6 separate regions of the Homo sapiens genome follow, and regions 1, 2, 4, 5 and 6 are each linked to region 3. The links come from fine-mapping of genetic effects on gene expression. A gene starts in region 3. Each other region holds a variant in brackets. All regions are shown on one strand. Distances are from middle to middle. Region 1 has its middle 6.5 kb from the start of OLFML1. Region 2 overlaps OLFML1 (olfactomedin like 1). Region 3 holds the start of SYT9-AS1 (SYT9 antisense RNA 1). Region 4 overlaps SYT9 (synaptotagmin 9). Region 5 overlaps SYT9 (synaptotagmin 9). Region 6 overlaps SYT9 (synaptotagmin 9).

Region 1 (4,090 bases), 14 kb before region 3:
CATGAGGGGCTCTGGAGATAGGAGGGCCCATCGGATATGTCCCAAATTGAGGCAAGGAAACCAGACCTTGGCACTCCCGCATCAAGCAGTCATTGGATGAAAGCTGTGCCCAAGGAGGGAGAGTAGATAATCTTGAGTGAGGCACTTTTCTTTGGATGAGGGCAATTCCTGGAAAGGGACTCAGCTGTGAGTTGTTAATAGTTTGCACAGCTGGGAAATGAATGTCCTCCTAAAGAGTAAATTTGGGAGATGCATCAGTGTCTACTTCAGTAGGTTAGGCAGAAGCCAGACCTTGCCAAGTTTGTAGGACATGCCAAACATTTTAGGTGTATGGTAAGAACAGTGAGACAGCAATTAGAGTTTCAAGTGAATAACACATAAATAGATGTGTGTTTACAGAGGTCTCTCTTGAGGCCAGGTGAAGGACGGATTGGAGGGCAAGACTAAATTCAAGGTGGGAGATGGATTAGGAGGCTGTGAGAATAATCTGAAAAGAGAATGATGAGGGCCAGAACTAGAGTTGTGACAGTGGAGAGAGAGCTAACTGGTTGCCTCTGAGAAATATTTAGAATGTAGAATTGCCAGAGCTTGGTTAGTGATTGAATGAGAGGCAAGAGAGGGAGTCAGGTTGATGGCCAGATCCTGTGTTGTTTACAACAGGCTCCCTTCTGACCCCTTCAAGTCTAGTGTCAGCATTGTAGCCAGAGTGAGGGAGCCAGTATGCAAACCTCATTGTGTAATTTCCCTGCTTAGGAGCCTTGATTGTCTGCCAATTCCTTCCCAAGAACATGTAGATTTCTCAGGCTCAGGGAAGTCTTTGCAACTACATCTAAGCTAAGATCTATAACGTGAGTAATCAATAGGCAAAGGAGGAGGGAGTATGTGTTACATTCCTTATGGAGGGAGACACACACAGACAGCCCTTTAAAGGTTGCTCTGAGGCCGAGGCAGGAGGATTGATTGAGCCCAGGAGTTTGATATCATCCTGAGCAACAAAGTGAGACCCCATCACTATGAAAAATCACAAAATTAGCTGGGCATGGTGGCATGAGCCTGTGGTCCCAGCTACTTTGGGAAGCTGAGATAGGAGGATTGCTTGAGCTGGGGAGGTAGAAGCTACAGTGGACTGTGTTCGCACCACTGCACTCCAGCCTGGGAGAAAGAGTGAGACCCTATCTCAACAAAAACAAAAAAACAAAACAAACAAAAAAAGTAGCTCTGACCAGCGAGGCTCCCTGTAAGCATTGAACATTGAGCATTGCCTCTTCCAGTTCCAATCTCGGCCGCCTGCTTTTTTTGCAATGTATCTCCTACTCAGTTTTGCAGCCCTGTTTGATCGCCCTTGCCTAGACTAACACCTGAACCAACGGTACTTTTCTTCTTGGCCTGGGCTTATGTCTGCCTCCAGAACTGGCCCTTTATATAATTCATCCCTCCCCCACCTTGCAACCAGGTTGTATTACCTGATGGCCTCTTTGAAAGACACCTGGAAGTTTGCATGGATGCACGTAAGTTCCTCAGCCCTATTATTGGGGCCCACTTAATAGATTTTAGTACAGACCCCAAATCATATATTTTTGAGGGGCTCAATTGTCTCTAGCCCTTAGCAAACTGGAGAGATTTGAGGTGATTTCTCTAGTTCAGCCTATCCCACATACCTGTGAAGACAAGGCTCTTGGTAATGTTATATTTACAAACCATGCGATACTGTGGATGTGTCATCTCATTTCTCTATGAGACAGTCCTCATAAATAAATTTTCAGAAAACATGAGATTCCTTTTCCCTTGGGAAAATGCCAAAACATTTTTTATACTTGACTTTAGCCAAAAGGTCAAAAAGTGATGCCAAAACATTTTTTAACTTTAAATATTTTAATGGAAATCTTCCCAAGCGTGTTTCAAACTTACTTTTTCAAAGTCATTTCTTAATGTCGTAAGATGACCATATGGATATCAGCTATTGTATCATGTATAGGGACCTTTCAGAGATTATTAAGTATATAGAAATGTCTGCCTTGGTACTTACTGGCTAAG[G/A]AAAACTAGGGATTTTGAGTTCCTGTGTCTGTTGTTATATTTTCTGTCTCCCTTTCCCTGTCTCTGTCCAATCTTTGTAAATAAAGGAAGCTAATTCTCATGCTAAGACTCTGAGCAGATGAAAAAGCCCTGTTTGGCATTAGGTTTAGACTTATGCTTCAGAAATCATTTGAGGCTGCCCCCTATTTTGCTCACTCAGCTGCTCTCTGTCTCTCTCCTGGGATCATAACCTGTTTCCATGACTTGCCTTGGCTCTCCTGTGTAGCAGGATCTAGAACTGGATGTGGGTTTGTTATTCTGCTTCACTTCAGCCCCTTCCAGATCATGGCCCCTGGACTGTCTCCTCCAAGTTCATGGGTCTTAGCAATGAGTAGGGGACACACCACCTCATGACTCCAGTAGAGACCTGTGGGACCCACTGGGATAGGCAGGGGTGGATGTTTGACTACACGCTCTCTTGGAAGTCTCTATTCTCTTCATCTCTGGGTTTTTCCCAACACTTTCTGCAGCTCACTGCAAGCTCTGTCATGCATTTGCATCCAAGGGAAGAACAGAAGTTTGACAGAGAAGGTTGGAAAGGACTTTTCAGGGTATGAGGATCATCTTGTTTCTTCTTAGTCCGTAAAGAGTTTTTTTTTCCCGACTATCAAAATCATATTATAATCCACATGAAATCTGAGAGGCCCTTCCACCATTTAAGAGGAAATCATCTTCTTTCCACCTTCCCCCATCACACAGAGACAGTAAAAGATGAACCTAAACCCTCTAGACTCCATGGTGACTGTCCAGGGAGACCTTGGTAAGGACCATCACACCTCCCAAATGCAGACCACTTGGGGTGAGGGAGAGGGCACTGAATGAAGAAGGGCAGGCCTCAAATACCAAATTAATTGTTACAAATTTCAGAGTTAGTATCTGTCAGTCTGTATGAAAATCAGAGCTAGGGTCCTTAGGAGTCTGGTTTTATTGAAAGTAAAGAATAAGAATGGTTTTAATAAGTGTGCCAACTTATGGCTACATGTCTTTATTGACTTCTTGAGCCAAAGTGCTATGAAAATTAGAAGACATGGCTCTGCCTTTCAGGAACTTACAATTACTAGAACACACACACACTCAGAAAATAGTGTAAGAGAATCCAGTTGTGAGGTCACATGAGTGAGAGGTGCTGAGTGGGCATGAAGCAGTGTTCTTTCTTAAGTACTATAATGTTCTCCCAGATATATTCATTTGCTTATTGTCTACTCTTGTCTTTCCAAATCTTTGGGTTATGTAAAAGAGAAAGATGTGAGAGTGGAGTTATAGGGAGCAATCTGTGGAATTTCATGACTAAATTCTGCTTCAGGTTGGAATAAAAGGAATAGATGTATTGAAGAAGGAGTTTAAATTCGATATTAAGAACAGTTTTCTGACTGAGAAGTTTTGGGCAAGAGGATGTTGAAGCAAGTGAACATTTTTCTAGTGGATAATGATATATATTTGGGGAATCATTTAAAAATCTTCAATTAATTGTGTTAGGGAGTCAGGAGAGAGCCCTCTAGAAGGCCCCGTAAAACTAGGGGCTGATAACATTGTTTACATTGACGGTCAAAAATGACAGTCATAAGTAAATACTTGTGATATCTCCAATTCTTGTCAGATATACATTTAGTTACCTTCTATCTCCACACACAGTTTGCTGTGTCACCAACGTAGTCTGTCCAGACTACTATAACGAAATACCATAGACTGGGTGGCTTAAACAACAAATGTTTATTTCTGACTGTTCTGGAGGCTGGGAAGACCAAGATGAAGGTGCTGGCAGATTTGGTGAGGACCTTTGTCCTGGCTTTCAGATGGCAGACTTCTGACTATATTCTCACATGGTGGAGAGAGAGGGGGTTCTAGTCTATTCTGCTTCCTATGATTTGACATAAGTGAGAAGTTCCCCAAAATGCAACCTTTTCCCCCATTCCCTCTTCCTCCTCCTCCTTCCTCCTCCTCCAATCTCTTCTTCCTCTTCTCCTTCTCCTTCCTCCTCCTCCTCCTCTTCCCTCCTTCTTCTTCTTCCTTCTTCTTC
Region 2 (4,090 bases), 23 kb before region 3:
TCTTTCTTCTGACTCAGGGATAAGATGTTTTTTGGTTCCCCGCCCCCCCCCCCACCAAAGCCTAACTAACCCCTCTGCCTGTGTTGACAATCCCTACATCTACTCATTTATTTGTTTTAATTGTTTAATTACTCACTGAAAACTATTTATTGAATAGACCCCATTCTAGGCACTGGAGACACAGCATTGAACATGAAACTGGGGTTCCAAGCTCTCATAGAGCTGACATTACAGATAGGGAGGTAGGAAATAACCTATGAGCCAATAAATGAACTAAATGGTTTCAAAATTATAAATGGTCTGAAAAAAATTATAGAGTAATAAGTGCTCCCAAACTCCTTTTGAGTTTTCCATCTCAGCATATTTCATACCAACCATTCGATGACCTAAGCCCAAAACCTGGGAAACATCCTGGACTCATCTCTCTCACTCATCATTTAGTTTTAATTAGCAGTCAGAAAGCCATGTGGATTCCAATTCTCAATGGCTCTCAAATCCACCTGTTCTCTGTCCCATGACACTTAATGCCAACACTATTACTTGTTGCCCAAATCATTGCAGCATTCCCTGACTGGTCTCCTCTCTCTAGTCTTAGCCTCTTCCTTCGTATCATGCCCTTGTTTAAAATTGCTCAATGGTTCTCTATAGTTTCTCCAGTGAGCTTCAACTTCCTTCATCTAGCATGCAAGGTCTCTCATTAACTGGGTCCTGCTGAGCTCTTCAACCTAGTTTCCCTACTGTCACCTCTCTAAAAAGCTTTCACTCAGCCATATTTGCGGGTCTACATGTCAAGGTGCTACAGTACCCTCATGCCTTTGGTATATTGTGCCCTGACTTGAAGTACCCTCTACTCATTCGTTTCTAACTTCTTTGTTCAAAACTGAGACCAAGTGTCACCTCATTTAGGAAGACCCTTTTCCTTATAGTGACCATGAAGTTCTTAGAAGGATTACATTGAGAAGGTATGTGAAACTTTTAGCACAATGATGGCACTCAGCTTATATGTCATTTCCCTGATGGAGGTTCTTGAATTGGAACAGACGTAATTAGCATGTAAATAAAGTCTTCCTATTTGCAATGAAAACATCTCAGAATACAAACCCTGAAGTGGGAGATTTGTCTCCCTCATTGTTTTAATGAAATAGACTCGGGCACAGAAAATTTTTCTTTGTCATTTGTGTGTTTATTGCCTGATACTGTTTATTATAATTTGAGCTGCTACACATTATTCTTAATGGCTTGGAAGTGATTCTGATGGATCACAAGATTAGACCACATCCCATGCATATCACCATCTCAGACAGCACACACAATAGTGATTCACTGCAGTTCCCATCCCTGAGGGTTGGCTGTTGCCATTTCCAATTTAAGACTGTTTCTTGGTACATTTGCAGATGCTATCTACAGCCTGGGTACTGGATGTAGAATCCACCAAACTGCTACTTTCCCTGAAAAAATCTGGGACCACACATCTCCACCAAACCAAGATTTATCAGGAGGTAGTCTCTTTGGGCTGACTTTTGGCACTATAGCCTTCACCATCTATGGAGGCTTTAGGCACTGTGTGTGAAAGAAAGAATGGCTTTGCGAGAATGGATTTCTCTTTGGACACCTGTTCTCTGTATAGCTTTCTCTCTCAGCAATGCACACAAAAGCACACCTCCAATTCTTACTCTCATTACTCTATGATGCTCCCTGACTGCTCTGAGTCTGTGTGTTTCTGAGCATAATAGTCCCTAGAAGGGCTAGGAAAAGATGCAGTTTTCTTACTTGCATTCAGCAGAGTCCGGATCTTTTTCTCTTCTTCAGCTTCTTGGAGCAACATTTCTGCCAGTGTCTTGTCCTCTGATTCGATGCACTCGTCAGCCTCTCGAAGGTATTGTATGTAGTCAATCTCCCGTTGGGCACGTTCAACTCTCAGTGCCAAGTTACCCACTGCACTCTTGTACTCACTTGTGTAGGTCTGACATCTTCCCAGCATGACAGATATATTTTTTGAGAACTCTTGGAATTCTTGAATGTATGCCCTCGTTGCTTGGGTACATTTTTCCAGCCCTTGCTTCAGTCAGAAAATAAATTTGCAAATTATTGCTTGTTATTTAAATTACCCAAATAATATAAATA[C/G]CTATCATTTATAGAAAAGGATTAGAAAATTACACATCATCAAATAGGGGAAAAATTGAAATCTCCCATAATTCCTAAATTCAAAGGTAGTATTGATACTTGAGTATATCAGTTTTTAAAAGTTTTCCCAAGCATTTAGTCATACATATGTAAATATATATTTTTAAAATGTGATTTTACTATATGTTTTGTATCATCTTTTTCACTTGCAGATATATTGTGAACATACTTTGATACTAATTAAAGTATACCTATACCATAACTTTAATGAGAGCATTCCATTTAATTGATATCCCATTATTTATTCTGTTAGACTCTTTTTGAGGTACATTTACATAGTTTTTAATTTTTTGTCATTCAAACAATGCTGAGAAAAAAACTTTTTATTTACATCTTCATCAGATTATTAAGGGAAAAAAAAACCTTTGTATTTACATCTTCATCAGATTATTTTAAGGTAGATTTCCAGAATATCCGTCCCTAGCACTTGGCACAGGGCCAAGCACATAATACTATTCAATAAATATTTGCTGAACAAAAGAATAAATGAATGGAAATGGGATTGCTTGGTCAAAGAGAATGTCTACTTAAAGCTCATTTGGCATGGTTTATCAAAATTCTATCCACAAATGTAAAAATGTATGCTCCAAACAACAATACGTAAGGCTGTTTATTTTGAAGGGAGAAAGACAGAAAGAGAGACCCAAAATAATTCCCTAAATCCCTACCCTCTTTTTTCCTACCCCTCCGACACTGGCTTCTCAGGCTGGGAATGCTATCACTGTATTGTTAAGTGTCTGCGCTGGCCAACAGTGACTGCCACCTGCGACTTGGCTTCACCTCAGGTCAGGACTGGGGTGGGAAGATCTATACAGATCATATCCTTGTCTTTTTCAAATCCACATTCATAGCTATAAAAGGATCAGTCTGTACTTCATACCCTTGACAAGTTCTTAAGGTAGTGAAAGACAATTTGCAGGGATTTGGCTGGCTTTACTCCCAAGGCAAGTCGGTGCTAAATGCAGAGGGATCCTGACTGAGCATCATTCTGGCACTTCTAAGGAGGTGAGGCTCAGGAGGGAGCAAGTGAAGAAGCGCAAGAGGCCGCTCGTCTGGGAACACTTCATCCACTGCCTCCAGGCCCCAGCCTGTTGGCTGGACGCCCTTAGGAAATGCATTCGGCCTGCTATGTGGAATTACTTTACCCTGACTATAACTAGAAGAACATATAATTTGGACATGAAGATTTTTCAGGAAAATGTATAAAATAATTATTAGCAATAAGAGGGTCTTTGAAAGAAGATAAATAATTTATCAATTTAGCTTGTACAAAAGCAAGCCATTAAGTATGAATAATCAATGCCAGGGTGTGGCAAAGGCTAGGGTGGAGGGTTACATTTGTCCCTGGGAGCCTGTCCAGGCTGCCAAAATGTTGGGTTTTGCACATTTTAATGAGGTGGCAGCCCAAATGCATTCTTTCTGTTTAACTTGGCTGAAATCTGCTCACTTCTAAGTCTAAATCCAGTTCAGCAAAAGAAACTAAGACTTCTCAGTACATTGATATCATGACTTTTTACAGTGACCTAATGGTTTATCATAAAAGACAAAACGAAAAGCTGAAATCCATTATCAGCCTGAAACACTAAAACATGAAGAAAAAGTAACCAACATTTTTAAGTTTCATATTTTAAAAAATGAACTATGGTGAATAATAACATTTTAGATACATACCATTATGCCAGGCAGTATTTTAGCTATGGATTAAATCTTCAGGATAGCCTTACAACATAAATTCTACTATTATCCCCATTTTACAGATGAGACAAACTGCCAAATCAGAGCACAAAGTGCAACTGTGCTTAAGGTCTGGAAGTAGCACACTGGACTCTGGAGTTCGGCTCTAAACTGCCAGACTATGAGCATTTTAAAGTGTAACTTTGGCAATGTGTCATTTGCTATCTGGGAA
Region 3 (4,090 bases):
GGGCCATGTTGATACTGGTACTCTCTACCACGTGCATGGGAGGAGGCAGTGAATTTGCTGTGAACTAGCCCTCCTTGCATTAGATTTTTTCCAGGGAACAGCCTGCTTGTCTTGGTATTCTCTTGGGGCTATTCCTTGCAAATCTGGAGCACTTCTTGGGGCACAGTTATTTTCTGGAGACAGTCATTAGCTCAAAGGTAGTCATGTGTGAATTGAGATCTGCTGCCTATTTAGCACCTGGATATATTTTTAAATATTCTGTCCTTCCAGGGCATTCTAGAAAATAATATTATGTTGGAATAACGATTTCCAGGGCAGATGCTATGTCCTCATCACCAAGGGCTTCATATGAAACATTGAGTCCTGGTACTCTTGGTACTGTCACTATATCTATCATTTGTTTTTGTTCATAGTCCGATCTTGGTTCTTGGCATGAGAGACATGCTTCCCTGCAGCACATCACCTTGGGCCACCTGCAGAAGGTGGCTGGACCATTCAGGTTCACCAAACCCAATCTGGAAAGAAGGCCAGTTAGTGCTGTGGTTACAGCTGAGCATTTGGTCACTGAAATCGTCTGGATGTTGCTGGATGGAAAAAGTTACTTAAGATCTTTGTGAGATGGTTGTCCTATTTTGTCCTTGGCACAAGCAGTCCTCTTACCCATGGTCATCGTTTCTGCAGGAAGAAAAAACAAAAAAATAATTTGGCTTTCATTCATACATTTTTTTTCTTTTTTTTTTTTTTTTGAGACAGAGTCTTGCTCTGTCACCCAGGCTGGAGTGCAGTGGCGCGATCTTGGCTCACTGCAACCTCCGCCTCCTGGGTTCAAGCAATTCTCCTGCCTCAGCCTCCCAAGTAGCTGGGATTACAGGTGCCCGCCGCCACACCTGGCTAATTTTTGTATTTTTAGTAGAGACAGGGTGTCACCATGTTGGCCAGGCTGGGCTCGAACTCCTGACCTTGTGATCTGCCTGCCTCGGCCTCCCAAAGTGGTGGGATTACAGGCGTGAGTCACTGTGCCTGGCCCATTCATACATTTTTAATGTGCACCAAACAAGTGCCAGGCATGGTAATAGATGCTGGGGATACTAAGCCCATAAGTAGGACACTCCCCCTGCTTTCAAAGGGCTCACAGATGGAGATATTATGATGTGAGAAGCTGCATAGAATACTGCAGGGGCAATGGGAAGGGAGAAAGTAACTTCAAAGGGATTGAGGAGGTCTATAGAGAGCATTCTGATTGATGAGTCTTGAGCTAAGCCATTTAGGCTGAAGAGGAATCCCTCTGGAAAGAAGAAGGGTCACTTGGGGTAGAGGAAAGAGACTGTGCAAAGGCAGAATGCAATAAAGGGCATGGTGCATTGAAGGAATCATCACAATTTGGTGTGACTGGACTGTAGTGTGAGGAATGAAGTGGTCGGAGGTAAGGCTGGTGATATGATTTAGTTGTGCCCCCACCCAAATCTCAACTTGAGTTGTACCTCCCAGACTTCCCACGTGTTGTGGGAAGGGACCCGGCAGGGGAGGTAATTGAATCATGGGGGCCGGTCTTCCCCGTGCTGTTCTTGTGATAGTGAATAAGTCTCACGAGATCTGATGGGTTTATCAGGGGTTTCTGCTTTTGCTTCTTCCTCATTTTCTCTTGCTGCTGCCATGTAAGAAGTGCCTTTTGCCTCCTGCCATGATTCTGAGGCCTCCCCAGCCATGTGGAACTGTAAGTCCAGTTAAACCTCTTTTTCTTCCCACTCTCGGATATGTCTTTGTCAGCAGCGTGAAAATGGACTAATACAGCTGGGATGGAAAGATGAGGTCTGAGTGGTGCAACATCATTCCTTGTTTCCGAGATGTGAAGGAGGGGCTCTCTTAAGGAAGCCCCAGACTTAGACTAGCAGTATCTCTTGTGTTTCACACTCAGCCCAGCATTCAACTTAATTTAAACTCAGGGCACCTTCCAGCACAGATTAAATGTAGTAATACTGTGGCCATAGAGAGAAAAAACTGAAGTGACTTCTATGGATATAGGAATAACAAAATTTACACGTAAACTATAAAAGAGTAGCAACCATTCTGACAATGAAATTTATGGACTTCATTTCAGAGATCAAAAGTTCACATGTGAGGCTATAACTTACTTAAGGAAAGTATTAAAAGCCAGTGTGTTCACTGCAAAGGGAAACCACGTTTGATTGTGACCCGTGGCTTTGAAGTGTGTGCATGTGTGTGGGCACACACACACATCTCTGGGAAAGGGGTCTTTGTTTCTGTGTCTAGGAAGAAAGACTGAATGATATTTGTCTTAATATTGTGGTTCAAATATCAGTTTGCCAGATCAGCTGCTACCCTGGAGCACCATCCAAATAGCTCTACTTTCGTTTTTTTTGAGATGGAGTCTTGCTCTGTCCCCAGGCTGGAGTGCAGTGGCGCAATCTCGACTCACTGCAAGCTCCACCTCCCGGGTTCATGCCATTCTCCTGCCTCAGCCTCCTGAGTAGCTGGGACTACAGGCGCCCGCCACCACGCCCGGCTAATTTTTTTTTTTTGTATTTTTAGTAGAGACGGGGTTTCACTGTGTTAGCCATGATGGTCTTGATCTCCTGACCTCGTGATCCGCCCGCCTCGGCCTCCCAAAGTACTGGGATTACAGGCGTGAGCCACCGCGCCTGGCCCCGAATAGCTCTACTTTCTAAGCCACCATCTACATCAGGCCCGTGGTTCCCTAGCCGCTCTTTCAACTGTGAAACCCATACCCATATCAGTTTGCCAATTCCTGAGTTCCTTCCCATCAGAGAAAGCAAATTGTTAACAGGCTCAGTGTCACCAATGAATGTGGTCTGGAATTAGTTGTGATGGTATCAGCCCATATTCCTTCATTTTTGGGTACTTATTGTATGCCAGGCACTGGGATATGGACTTTACAAGTTCTTAAAAGACCCCGTGGGGTTCTTTAATGGAGGATGCAGCGTTGTAGAGACACTAATTTGCACAAGGCCACACTGTGACTAAGTGTCAGAGCTGAGATTTAAACCCAAGACTTCCAATTTCAAAGTCCAAGCTTTAGCAATTATGTCAATTCCCTCTGTAGGTCCAGTCTACATTTCTGATGTATTAAAAGTACTTTATCTGCCTTGGCTTTCTAGACTCCCTAAATCTAGCCAGATGAGCTTCCTTTAAGAACCCTAGTCCAAACTAGTAGCATACAGCAGGTGCCACATCCCACTTATGGTTTCCTAGCTGCTTATCCCATTTCTCTGGATTCCCCCAGCTAGTGACATGCATATGTATCTTGTTTGCCCCCACAGTTCTGTGCACAACCTCATTTTTCCCTATTATGACCTAATTTTACCTCTTCATTTAAGCAGTTCCTTCAGAATGCTTTGGGTTTAGCTCTCCCAAAGTACCCAGCCTTAGGGACCACCTCTGTACCTGATTTCTTATGGCCTGTCTAAAGCCTGCTTAGAGGGCTAGGCTGCAACCTTAGCCAATTTTTTTTACCAGTCCCCATACCCAGGGATACCACTAGCATTGGCATTGTTGCCAATGGCCAAGTCATAGCACAGCTCCCACCTGAACTCCATAGCTGGGTTTTGCTCATTTGGTGAATTTCCTTGTGTGTGTAATTAGCCAGAATCAAGGTCAGCCTCTGGAAATACGGCGGTGCAGCCTACTGGTCTCCCCCTTCTTAAGGTGCAGCCCTTCACTTGGGTGAGTTTTCTGGGCTCTGAATCTTTTCCTCTTCTGGACAGCGCCACTAAGGTCCTAGAATGCTTGTGAGCTGGGACCAAGCCCACAAGATGACAGGATTAAGGAGTTTCAATACATCTGGTGTCGTGATAGGGTCATTGCTACCAGCAATATTGCAAGAAAAGCCTCTTGAAAACAAACTTATTCTAGGGAAAGTCAAGCATACAAGTCAGTTCTGAAAAAGTTGTCTCAGGAGAAGACATGAGTAAATTTTGCTGTTGTTGTTCAGCCCCCTTTTGTCTGGCTTCTGTTGGGGGAAGACTAGAAAATCTCAACCAAATCAAACAAAATAAGCAAATTACACCTTTCCAAACTCCTATAACCTAGTGAGCTGTTTTTCAGCCAAAAA
Region 4 (4,090 bases), 9.5 kb after region 3:
GGAAGCTTGATTGATTCTTACTTGAACAGAATTCTTACAATACAGCAAATGATGCCATACAGTGAAGCACCTTGAAAGATTGCTGGGATAAGCTGACAGCATGGCAGCCAAAATAGTGACCCCAGGCTTGCAGGAATTCTGTGCTTTCTGGAGGAAATGGTCATGGGTTTCCCAACCTGCCTTTTAAACTAAGGTAAGTCTCTTATAAAGACCTTTATGAGAACTGTTTGAGCCCTCATGACACTGCAAATCCATCTGAGATGATGACTGGGACCTTCACTGCCACTGTCTTCATTCTCATGGGTGTTGCCTGGCTCTTTGGCATTCAGAGCTAGCTCTCAGTTGCTTTGGTGCATTAATAGAACCACTATGCCTGTAGATTTGAAGAAAAATTGACATGGAGAATTTATCTAAGAAATCAGTAAGTAAAACTTGTAAAAATCATTTTACAAGTTGTAAGATAGAAGAAATTGAAATTCTGTCCAACAAGAACTTATTCAATGCTGACTTTGTGCCAGGCATTTTGCCAGGTGCTTGTTATACAATGATGAATAACACTTAGGCCCATTCTCAAGGAGCAGTGGGAGGTGCTGGGGATGACACACACACAGATAATATCAAGTGGCACCAAATGCTATGTCAGGGGCAGGCACAGGGTGCTAGGAGAGGATAGCACAGACGAGAAGCATTTAGCTCATACCACAGGATCTTCAGAATGCTTCCTGAAGAAGCTGACAACTGATTAGATGCTAAAAAGACAGGCTGGATCTAGGCAGGAAAAGAGGGGTTGAAAGGACAGCACAAGAAAAAGTTAAAGCAGAAGCAAGGGCATGGGGGTGAATAGAAAGCACTGTGTGAACCACCAGCCATTAGGTGTGGCCCCAACATAAAGTATAAGGAGGAGATGGAGGCAGGGTCGCAGAGGACCTTGAATGCCAAGGTAGGGAACTCGATCTTGATCTTGTTCAGAATGAAGGGCAGTTATTGAAGGATTTTTAAGTGGGAGAGTTACATGCTCAGATTTGTACTTTAGTACTTGAAGGAGTGTAGAGGTTGGATTGAAAACAAATAAGAGAGTCAGAAAACCAGAATTGAGTGATAGTATGGGATCAGCTGAAGCACCCCTCTTGCCTTGACAGATCTCACTGAGCCTGGCCCTGTGGAATTACTGGTGAGTGAGGATGGGAAGGAGGTCGTTGCCTTTAGCACTTGAGAACTCTAGGTGGCTGGTCCCAAAACAGGACGGGGCTGTTTAAATTTAGCATTTCCTGAATAGGGACCAATGGAGTTCTGAAAAAATAAGTCAAAAATATAAATACCAAAGAGATAATGAATGAAGAGTCATATATTTATCACCCACTCTCAACTGACCCTAAACTTTAGTGAACAATAAAATGGACATTAGATCTGTTCACCTGTGAACTTGATTTCAGGATATCACCATTACCACTTATGGAGGGTGGCCATTTTCTGGCTAAAGAGCAAGATCCCAAGGTCCTCTAGCTCTCATTTGCCTGACATGGGGAAGACACTGGAGGGAGGTGTAACCAGCCTGCTGCATGTGCAGGCAGCTTGCCTCTCTCCTCTGGGTGCCTCCACCCACTGTGAGGAGCTGTGTGCAGACTGTACCTTGTTTTAATCCTCCCTTGAGTACTTACACACTGACCAGCCCCCTCCTGCCTCCTGACTATTGCATACTGGAAACTTCTCCATGATCAGAGAGCAAAAGCTCAATTGCCATGTTTAGTAAAAGGTCTGCAGTAAGTCCAAATCAACTAAAAATAGTCAATTTAGTGGGTACTGACAGACCCTATGCCCCAGACCTAAAGAGTTCACATCAGGAGAGAAGACAGATGTATCCAACTAACTACAAAATAAAAATGAGAGGTGGTAAGTGGTAAATGTATAATCAAATACAATCTAAATACAATCAAACTATTAAGGGAGTACTTCATTCCAAATGGGGCATTGCTCACTAGAAACTTCATGGAGGAGGTGGCACCTAAAATGAACCC[T/G]GAGGATTATGTAGGACTTTTAGACAGTGGGTGACTTCCTTCTTGGGCACCTGCTGGGATCAGCCCCATCTGACTGGATGGTGATACTTGCTTTAGCAGACATGACCCAGGGAAAGGCCATTTTTGCCCAGAATTTACACAGGTCACAAAGAGCAGCTGTAGAATGCATAGCCTATTGTGATACCATGAGGGACTAAGTACCAACCCCATGAAGTCCTCAAGCAGGGGCCTTCACCCCTTTCCCAGGACCTTCACGTTCTCCTTTCTTTCTCCAATGGTGATTTACAGATGTGTTTTTCTGTATTTGGGAAAAAGTCTCAGAATTAGCTTAAATGAGCCAGGGACAATGGCTCATGTCTAAATCCCAGAACTTTGGGAGGCCGAGGTGGGTGGATCACTTGGATCCAGGAGTACAGGACCAGCCTGGGCAACATGGTAAAACCCCATCTCTACAAAAAAAAAAAATACAAAAATTAACCAGGCGTGGTGGCGGGTGCCTGTAGTCCCAGCTACTTGGGAGGCTGAGGTAGGAGAATCGCTTGAGCCCAGGAGGCAGAGGCTGCAGTGAGCCGAGATGGCGCCACTGCAGTCCAGCCTGGATGACAGAGCAAGAATCTGTCTCAAAAAAAAAAAAAAAAATAGCTTAAACATTGGAATGTTGTATGGAATATACACATCTAATAGGTTGAATAGAACTTCATTTTGAAAAGTCAATTAAATGTGTGCTAATTTTAGAAAATGTATTGTCTTGCAGCTTGCTTTTTTTTTCTCAGTGAAAGAGACAGAAACAAAGGCCCTTAAATGTGTTTGAAAAGAGGATACAAGATAAGAAACTTTCTTTTATCCTTAAAGGTTTAGAGGCTTTTATTGATATGTTATTAATAATATTAAGATTTTTGGCACTATTCCAACTATTAGCTTTTCATCTCAAAGATACTCACAATGTCAAAACAAATAAAACCTATTAGCTGAATTCGTTTTCTCTCATCTGTGTATCTGCTGTCCTCTATACACTGTGGCTGATAGTAGGCCACGGCATGTATCTCTCAGCCATGCTGTTAGCATTGGGCCTTTGTGTGACTTAGAAACAGAAGCCTCCTCCAGGCAAACTCACCACTTGGTGAGTGGAGAGAAAGCTGACTTTGAGCTGACTTTAGCTTCACACATCTCCTCATCCTGGCACCCTAGTGAAGAAACCACCTGCAAGACAGTGTGTTGGGGTGCTGGGGAAACAGCTCTTTGGGGAGGTATCAGGGGCCTTAGGTTATTAAAGGTAATGCCCAGGTCCAATCTCAGAATGAGAGGCTGTGTTATTCTGCATAACAATGTAAAATGTGTTCCCCGTAGGCAGTTTCCTATTGGCAGAGACAATTATGATATTAGATGGATGTTTCTTTCCCTGGCTATAGAATTTTTAATTTCAGTTACTCGCATTGTCTTCACTCGTGTTATCCCCAGCCCTTAGGAAATCTTCATTAAATGCTATAGTCTGGCATTTGCATGCTTTGGGGGAATGGGGAAAGGGACTGTGTCCGTGCTTGGGATAGGATGTGGGGATAGGGCAGGGAGAAGATGGTGGCTGGGAGAAGCAGCTGAAGGCCTCTAAAGATGGCTGTAGAGAAGCCTGGAGTGCAGCAGAGAGCGGAAATGGTAAGCATCATCTGGAATCATGAGATGCAAAAAAGACCATTCCTCAGGCCACTGCAGAGACAAATGGGAGGAAGACATCAACTAAGGGCTAGAGAGAAAGGGTGGGGACTCAGGGTATTTGAGTATTAAAATGAAGGGTGATTCTGGGAGCTGGAGGCTTGGACTCTCATCAAGGGCTGGAAATCAGGTAGGTAGCAAGGAAAGGAAAGAAAAGTGACTGGGGAGCAGCAATGTCAGAAAAGGGGCGACTCACCTGGACTTAGGGATTGGTATCCTGCCCTGTGGGGAAGCTGAGCCCTCTTGGCCAGCTGGGAGCCTCTGGCCTGTCAAACAAGAGGAGACCACAGAGGGTGCCTGCTGAAGGAGACTGGGCTTAAGGCCTCTTCCCTGGTGCTCCTGAGGAGGGCGACTGAGATCTGAACTTA
Region 5 (4,090 bases), 34 kb after region 3:
TCACAATTCAACATGAGATTTGGGCAGGGACAAATATTTAAACTATATAATTCCACCCCAGCCCCTCCCAAATCTCATGTTCTTCCCATATTGCAAAATACAACCATGTGTTCCCAATAATCCCCCAAAGTCTTAGGTCATTCCAGCATTAATTCAGAAGTTCAAAGTCCAAAGTCTCATCTGAGACAAGGTAAGTGCCTTCTACCCATGAGCCTGTAATATAAAAAATCAAGTCATTTACTTCTAAGATACAATAGAGGTACAAGCATTGGATAAACATTCCCACTCCAAAAGGGAGAAATTGACCAAAAGAAAGGGGCTAGAGGCTCCATGCAAGTTTTAAACCCTGCAGGGCAGTCATTAAATATATATATATATATATATATATATATATATATATATATATATATGTATATATATTTTTTTTTTTTTTTTTTTTTTTTTTTTTTTTTTTTGAGATGGAGTCTCACTCTTGTTGCCCAGGGTGGAGTGCAATGGCACAATCTCAGCTCACTGCAGCCTCTGCCTCCCACGTTCAAGCTATTCTCCTGCCTCAGCCTCCCGAGTAGCTGGGATTGAAGGCACCTGCCACCATGCCCAGCTAATTTTTGTATTTTTAGTAGAGACAGGGTTTCACCATGTTGTCCAGGCTGGTCTCGAACTCCTGACCTCAACTGATCCACCTGCCTTGGCCTCCCAAAGTGCTGGGATTACAGGCGTGAGCCACCATGCCCGATTGTTGTTAAATCTTAAAGCTCCAAAATAATCCTTGACTCTATGTCCCATATCCAGGACACACTGGTGCAAAGGGTGGGCCCCCAAGGCCTTGGGCAGCTCTGCCCCTATGGTTTTGCAGGGTTGGCCCCCAGGGATGCTCTCGTGAGCTAGGGTTGAATACCTGTGGCTTTTCCAGGCACAGGGTGCAAGCTGTCAGTGGATCTACCATTCTGAGGTCTGGGGGCTGGTGGCCCCCTTCTCATAGTTCCCTTAGACACTGCCCCTGTGGGGACTCTGTGTGGGACCTCCAATCCCACATTTTCCCTTAGCACTGCCCTAGTAGAGGTTCTCTGGGAGGGCTCAACCCCTGCAGCAGGCTTCTTCCTGGGCACTCAGGCTTTCTCATACACCCTCTGAAATCCAGGCAGAAGCTGCTAAACCTTCACTCTGGTACCCACAGTTAAGCACCTGCAGGCTTAATGCCACATGGAAGCTGCCCAAGCTTATGGCTTGCATTCTCTTAAGTAGCAGCTGGAGGTGGACCTGGGCCCCTTTGAGCCATGGCTAGAGCTGGAGCAGTAGGGATGTGGGGAGCAGTGTCCTGAGGCTGCACAGGGCCGTGGGGCCCTGGTCCTGGCCCACAAAACCATTCATCACTCTTAGGCCTCTGAACCTGTAATGAGAGGGGCTGCTGCCAAGGTCTCCGAAATGCCTTTGAGGTCTTTTTCCCATTGTCTTGGATGTTAGCACCTGGCTCCCTTTTAGTTATGCCAATATCTCTAGCAAGTGGTTCCTCCACAGCTTGCTTGAATTTCTGTCTTGAAAAGCTTTTTCTTTTACTGCCACACGGTAGGCTGCAAATTTTCCAAACTTTTACACTCTGCTTCTTGTTTAAATATAAGTTCCAACTTTAAGTCATTTCTTAGGCTGTCAGAAGCAGCCAGGCCACATCTGGAATGCTTTGCTGCTTAGAAATTTCTTCTGCCAGATACTCTAGATCATCACTCTCATGTGCAAACTCCCACAAATCCCTA[A/G]GGTATGGACACAATACAACCGAGTTCTTTGCTAAAGCATAACAAAGATGACCTTTGCTCTTGTTCCCAATAAGAGCCTCATTTCCATCTGAGGTCTCATCAGTCTGGACTTCACTGTCCATATTACTATCAGCATATTGGTCACAACCATTTAACCAGTCCCTAAGAGAGTTCCAAACTTTCTCTCATCTTTCTGTCTTCTTGTAAGCCCTCCAAACTCTTCCAACCTTTGTCCATTACCCAATTCCAAAGCTGCTCCCACATTTTCAAGTATCTTTATTGCAATACCCCACTTCACTTCTGGTACTGCTTTTCTTGCATTGCTATAAAGAAATACCTGGGACTGGGCAATTTATAAAGAAAGGAGGTTTAATTGGCTTATAGTTCTTCAGGCTGTACCAAAAGCATGGTACTGACATCTGCTTGGTTTCTGGTGGGGCCTCAGGAAGTTTTTACTCATGGCAGAAGGCAAAGGAGGAGCCAGCATCTCACTTGGCAGAGCAGAAGCAAGGCAGGGTGGAAGGTGCCACACACTTTTAAATGACCAGATCTTGCAAGAACTCACTATCAAGAGGACCGCACCAAGCCATGATGGATATGACCCAAGCACCTCCCATCAGGCCCCACCTCCAACATTGGGGATTACAATTCAACATGAGGTTTGGGCAGGGACAAATATTTAAACCATATTAATTGGTTTTATGACCGCTCTTTAGTAAACTTTACTAATATGAACACTTACTATTAATATGTAAAGCATCTAAGCACACACCATTCAGATCCTAAGCTATGAAGGAAAAAATCACCCTATTGTTTTCCTGCCTTATTCATAACTGCTTCTGTTTCTGACAATTTGAGTATAACTCATCATAGTGTACCATATACCTAAAAGTTACAATTGCATTATATAATTTCTCAATGAATGGTAAAGTTCCCCTTGCTTTATAGAAACCCTCTTTTCTTTATTTCAAGCATTTTGATTATCAATATCATCACATTTTACATCCTGAATTTTATCTAAGGTGCGAAAAAAATATGTAATTCTACCACCAATGACTGAAGACTTTAAATATACATTTGAGTTTTACATAAAAATAGATAACGTAGAAATAAAAATAATACTAGAATTGCTAAAATTATTGTGTTAAAAGAGTGTAGATCTTCATTTTTGCTGTAAATAAATGAATTGCAGTACATCACATAAGACATTGAAGGGAAAGGACAGCTATGTGACTGATCTTCACTCCTGAGGAACTGTGCCTTTATCAGCTCAAGGGAGTGATCATAAAATGAAGAGCTTCCCACAGGCCCTGAGACTCCATGTAGAATTTGAATAACATATAAATGCAAAAGGAAAATAGTTTTTTTCTTAACCTTATATAATATTTGTATGTCACTGAGAGTCAAGTGTCCCTCTTTTCACCATGCTTGTTTTAACACACAAGTTAATTATCTGAACATTAATAATTTGCTCCATTAGGAAAACTTTAATGGGAGTCTACTGTGGGCCACACACTTTGTTAGGTATTGGACATACCGCAGTGAGCCAGGCAGAAGAGCTGATCTCGCGACAGCTTTGGGAATGGTTCTCTTCACTCCCAAAGAACACCAACTGGGGCAGTGTGAGTGTTCACCTGTATCCTAAATAAGATGTTTTTCATTTCAAATAAAATAAATTCTGCTTAATATTGCTTACACAACCAAGGGAATATATACGTTTACATACTTATAAAGGCCAGAGGTAACACTATGTTTGGGAGAGGTTTGATTTAGGAGCTCAACCACATGACTGAGAATCTGGTTTCTTTGTATCTATGGGCTTGGTTTCTCCCTAAACCTGGATCTTCTATAGAGATCCAAAGAAGCCACAGCTGCTCCCAGGGTATATAGTGCTTTGTTTATATCCAACAAGAAAGAGAGAGCATCTTTGTCCAAACATTCACACCAAATGTTTTATAATACTCTTGGACTGAATCAGCGTATGCAGTGGTAATCCTTATGGTTAGCTTGACAGGTTTAGCCTGGAACTGTCATATGTACCATCACCAGAGACAAGGATGGAGCCAGGCTCCCTAGAATCATTAATCAGAAATCAGGGCCATCAGAAAAGGGGCTTGATGCTGGAGAGGCAACTAATAAATATTCACTCTGTCGGTGTATGGGTGCCCACAGGACTGGGCAGGATCTTTTGTGAGGTTCCCTTCTGCTTTTTGTTGCTGGAGTGTGAGTACTAAAACCACCTATTCCAACACAGACCCTCCATTAATTTGGCTGTACTATTCTATTGTCTTCATTACTACAACTTAAGTATTCACTCATGGGACTTCCCAATTTCTATT
Region 6 (4,090 bases), 23 kb after region 3:
TTACTGTCTGAGGCCAAAATTATAAACCAGCTGTAGTTTTAAGCAAAATACATTGCAGCCTCCACTGGATCATTGAAGAAAAGTCGGTCACGACCAGCACAGAGGCCCACTAGGACCCATCAAAAAGGGAGCACAGCCCTTGAAGAAGTTCATTCCCAAACCTCAGGGAATATGTTCTGGCAGCATTGTTCTACATCCTGGTGCCTCACTGTCACTGCACGCTGCTCTCTCCTTGCAGCTGGAAACCCTTCTTCCTCCCCTAGGAAGATTTCTCAGACCTGTCAGTTCATACTGATCTCTCACCCTGAGGATTAGAGAGCAGGCTGAGCAAAAAGAGGCACTATTAAATCTCAGCCCAGGGAGGATGGAGGAGCCCTCATCGACCTGCAGGTAGACTGGCAGTCTCACTACAACTCAGAGTCTGTACCCTTTTTGTAGCCAATAGGCCAAATTAGGTTCTAAATCTACTTCTATAGTAACTGGAATGTTACTTCTATAGTAAACTGGAATGGCTGCTTCCACTGATCAAATGAATCCAATCATGACCAAATTCTCTATAGAAGCTAAGCTCTTGCCTGAATAGTTATGCAAAATCCATGCATTCATTCAACAACCGTCACAGAATTATGGAGTACCTCCTATGTGCCAGGTACTATGTGAAGGATTGGGTATACAATGGCAAATAGAGCAGATATGGCTCCTGCACTATTGGACTGTGGCTCTTGAATTATCCTTCACTTGACTTGGAACCTGCCAACAGTCCTGTCTGGGACATTAGGATCTGCATCTGGAGATGAGGTGGTGGGTAGAAGAGAGTTTCAGGATGAAGTGGGCATGCTGAAGGTGAAGAACGGAGCACATGAGCTGCTGATTTCAGCTGAGCTGGCTGGAGACACTGGCCTTGGCTCCCAGGAGCCTTGTCTGCTGCGCAGCCTCTTTCATGCATTCAGCACTTCCTGAGGTGCCTACCATGTGCACGGGCTGTGCTCTCTGTGGTTCACTCCTTCTACCCCCTAAAACATGGACCCCATGCCCTATCCTTGCTGTGTGGAGCTCTTGCTAGGTATGACTAAGACAGAATACAGTACCAGGTAACACCATAACTGTTATTAAACAATCTAATTATTTTCTTATGTCTATTTCCTCAGCCAGATTGTAAATTCTGTGGGGGATGGGACCAGCATTTCCCCATTATACCTCAGTGCCAGGTAGGGTGCTTTGCACTTGCTCAGAAATATTCGGTTTAAAATAAATTCTCCAACTCCACTTCCAAAGGGGAGGCCAGGGGATTCCTTTTCAGGTGAACATGTTAGGCAGTCGGGTCTGCAGAACAATGAGCAAATCTAGACTTCCACAAGGGCACACCAGAATCCACTCATTCCCATTCAAAAAGTCCTCTCTCTCATTCTCATTCCTTCTTTCATTCTCATTCTCATTCATTCATTATCTCTCTCTCTCTCTGCTTTTCTCCCTCTCTCTCATTTTCCTCACTAGACTGTGTACTCCTGGAAGGCAGGCGCCATGTGTTTTTATCACTGAATCCTCAGTGTCTGGACATCGCGTGGTACACAGGGCCCCTAAATACTTTTTTTTT[G/TG]AATGGATGTATCAATGAACCCATCAGAGTCCTGAAGAGTTACCTGCAGTGATGTCAATGGCCAGGGGAGGGCAGCAAAGGGCAGCAGAGCTGATGGCAGAGGCCCTAGGAAAGGCCTACTGCTCTTTGAGAGACAGATGCTTGTCATTGGGTCAAGGAACCCATTACCCATGTGAGTATTTGGAGATATTGAGAGCCCCAGGACTGGAGAAAACGGCTGACAGGAATCCAGAGAAGCCCAGTGTCATAAAGGAGGGGGACCAATTTGAGTGGGGAGCTGCAGAAGTGGGTGCCCAGTGCTGGGGGTGAAGGTGTGTGGAAAGAGGAGCTGAAATCCCGATTCCCAGCAAGATAGTCTAGAGTCACAGTGTTGGCAGCACGAGTCCTGTGCTGAGCTCTCTGGGACTCCAAACATGCCTGAAGGGCTTTGCCTCTCTGGTTCTTGAAATGACAAGTGTTCCGAAAGACGGGTCTGACACCATCCTCCACCCTGGTTTGCGCTGCAGAAGAGTGGGAGGAGAGAGCCAAAAGCAGGCCACAGCTGTATGTGTGTGGAGACGTGTTCTCCAGCCCCTCTTCGAGTCCCACCACAGGGGTGGGAAATGGCAGCGTTGGGTCTGTAGAGGAAAAGCTCCTCCCCTCAGCCATTTTCACTGAGAGCAGAGCGTTGATGGCATGTGCAGAGACATGGCAGGAGGCGGTGGGGTTCCTGGGATCATCTCTTATCTGGAGAGTTTCTCAGTGGGCGCTGCTGGTCTGGCAAGCTTTGAGATTCAGATTTCGTTTGCTGCCCTGTGGTGTCTGTGCTGGCTTGAGCTTTTTGGAATAGGCTACAAAATGGTTTGCTCCCAGGAGGTGGATAATGGAGTGCAGAGTTGTCATGAGAAGAAACAGGGTGCCTGTGGGGGAGAGTCATAGCTGGAAGGTTGGCTGGGTATTGCCAGGGGAGAAGGGGATGGTGTTTTTCTTGGTGTCCCAGAAGAAGGGATCCATCTCCAGGGCTGAACCTGTTGGGCCCACACAGTCCCATTCCTTTTGCCAGTGACTGCTTCAAAAATTGGCATACTTCTGGCCATGATGTGTAAGGAGCCAGTTTGCTGGGCACTTGAATAATTTTTTCCTTGCTCTTAACAGAGAGCTACAAGAAGTGCGTTTTCCTGTGGCTACTTTCATGTCTGGATGCAATGCCTAGACCTGCATCCATCTTGCGACCAACCTGAAGATGAACAGAAAGGAAGGAAGGATGGCCCAATAGCCTGGGAAGAACTGGTGTTCCTGATACCATCATTAACCACAGAATCTACAATCCCGGAACCCCCCATCCTTAACCATGGAATCTACAATCCTATCTCTAGACCCTTTGTCCAGATGCTACAGTTTCTTTGTTCAATCTAGTTTGTGTCAGGATTTCTGTTCATTACATCAAAAGTATTCTAATACTTGTAGCAAAGCAACTGGAGAAGTTTTCACTTTGTCTTTAACCAAAGAAGACTTCCAGGAAACATCTCCTCAGTGGGTTTCTCCCTCACCACTGGATTTTTATCTCTGTACTAGTGCTTTGATTTGTTTTAGGAGTCTCACCTCTCCACCTGTCATATTTCCCTGGCAGGCTCATTTCTGCTAATGCCCACAATATGTGTATCAATGAGCTTTCAACGTTAGGTACACAGCTCTTCAGGCATGTATAGCACATTAATCTGTCTGCTTCTAAGTGGTCTGTTGACATGTTTGGGTGCCAGTTATATCTACAAGGCTGTGATCATTGTCCTGGGTTATTCTGTTTGTTCTCTCTGCAGGATGCATTAGGACACCCAAGGCCATGGCCATCACTTACATCTAGGATTCAATCTTATCTCCTGTGAATCACTGGAAACCTCCTGTCCTGGAACCCTTTTTTTCCACATCCCACTGGATGTCATTCATAGCAACTGGTCTTGTGGGTTGTCTATTTTATTGTGTTGTCTTACTCTTCCTCCTGGTATCAGTTTTTAAATCCTCTTGATGAGATCAGCTGATCAGTCGCTAAGCAACATAGTCCCCCATGTCTTTGTAAGATTCTCTGCACTCATGGCTAGAATGATTTATTCTGGTATCTTAAGCTGTGTTTCAGAACCTCATTCTAAATATCAACCTATTCTTGTAAGTCCACTACTGATCATCTTTAGATATTCTTCAGTCTTCCAGAGTTCCAAAGGGCAGTAGGAAGAAGCAATGAAAATACCACCTGTATTCTCACATCTTTCATTGTTCCACTCAAAAAATACCACCATGTTCACTTCTGGTGGAACGTTTATGTCCATGAGAAGCAGTGGCTTTGAAGAGTTTTGGCAGACTATGGCGCCTTACTCAACATTGGGAAGGTATCTTGCCATCAGACCTTTTGGGTCTCCATGAAACTTCTTATACCCCCTCTGGGAAAAGTCACTAACTGTGATCTTACTGAGCTTCTAAACACAGCATTTTTTTTACACTTAAGTGAGCGGGGGTCCTCCTCAT

Evidence for each region. PIP is the estimated chance that this variant, and not a neighbour inherited with it, causes the effect.
Region 1: its variant is fine-mapped to the expression of SYT9-AS1 in whole blood (TOPMed, PIP 0.98).
Region 2: its variant is fine-mapped to the expression of SYT9-AS1 in whole blood (TOPMed, PIP above 0.99).
Region 4: its variant is fine-mapped to the expression of SYT9-AS1 in whole blood (TOPMed, PIP above 0.99).
Region 5: its variant is fine-mapped to the expression of SYT9-AS1 in whole blood (TOPMed, PIP 0.97).
Region 6: its variant is fine-mapped to the expression of SYT9-AS1 in whole blood (INTERVAL, PIP 0.99).

Annotation. Positions count from the first base shown.
Region 1 is chr11:7,476,997-7,481,086 of GRCh38, reverse strand. No RefSeq gene overlaps it. Among named protein-coding and RNA genes, the nearest start is that of OLFML1, 6.5 kb to the left of the region's middle. The variant G/A (reference allele first, on the strand shown) is at 2,035.
Region 2 is chr11:7,486,096-7,490,185 of GRCh38, reverse strand. OLFML1 (olfactomedin like 1) reads right to left here. Exons shown (of 3, transcript NM_198474.4): 2 at 1,771-2,059. Among named protein-coding and RNA genes, the nearest start is that of OLFML1, 2.6 kb to the right of the region's middle. The variant C/G (reference allele first, on the strand shown) is at 2,125.
Region 3 is chr11:7,463,377-7,467,466 of GRCh38, reverse strand. It overlaps SYT9-AS1 (SYT9 antisense RNA 1), which reads left to right and starts at 1,632. Exons shown (of 5, transcript NR_103855.1): 1 at 1,632-1,714. It overlaps SYT9 (synaptotagmin 9), which reads right to left. Exons shown (of 7, transcript NM_175733.4): 7 at 1-675. The coding sequence ends at 667.
Region 4 is chr11:7,453,899-7,457,988 of GRCh38, reverse strand. The region is part of intron 6 of SYT9 (synaptotagmin 9); the gene reads right to left. SYT9-AS1 (SYT9 antisense RNA 1) reads left to right here. Exons shown (of 5, transcript NR_103855.1): 3 at 30-193. Among named protein-coding and RNA genes, the nearest start is that of SYT9-AS1, 9.9 kb to the left of the region's middle. The variant T/G (reference allele first, on the strand shown) is at 2,016.
Region 5 is chr11:7,428,913-7,433,002 of GRCh38, reverse strand. All of the region lies in intron 6 of SYT9 (synaptotagmin 9), which reads right to left. Among named protein-coding and RNA genes, the nearest start is that of SYT9-AS1, 35 kb to the left of the region's middle. The variant A/G (reference allele first, on the strand shown) is at 1,752.
Region 6 is chr11:7,440,358-7,444,447 of GRCh38, reverse strand. All of the region lies in intron 6 of SYT9 (synaptotagmin 9), which reads right to left. SYT9-AS1 (SYT9 antisense RNA 1) reads left to right here. Exons shown (of 5, transcript NR_103855.1): 5 at 2,729-4,090. Among named protein-coding and RNA genes, the nearest start is that of SYT9-AS1, 23 kb to the left of the region's middle. RefSeq lists an enhancer at 1,558-1,607 and a silencer at 1,576-1,870. The variant G/TG (reference allele first, on the strand shown) is at 1,595.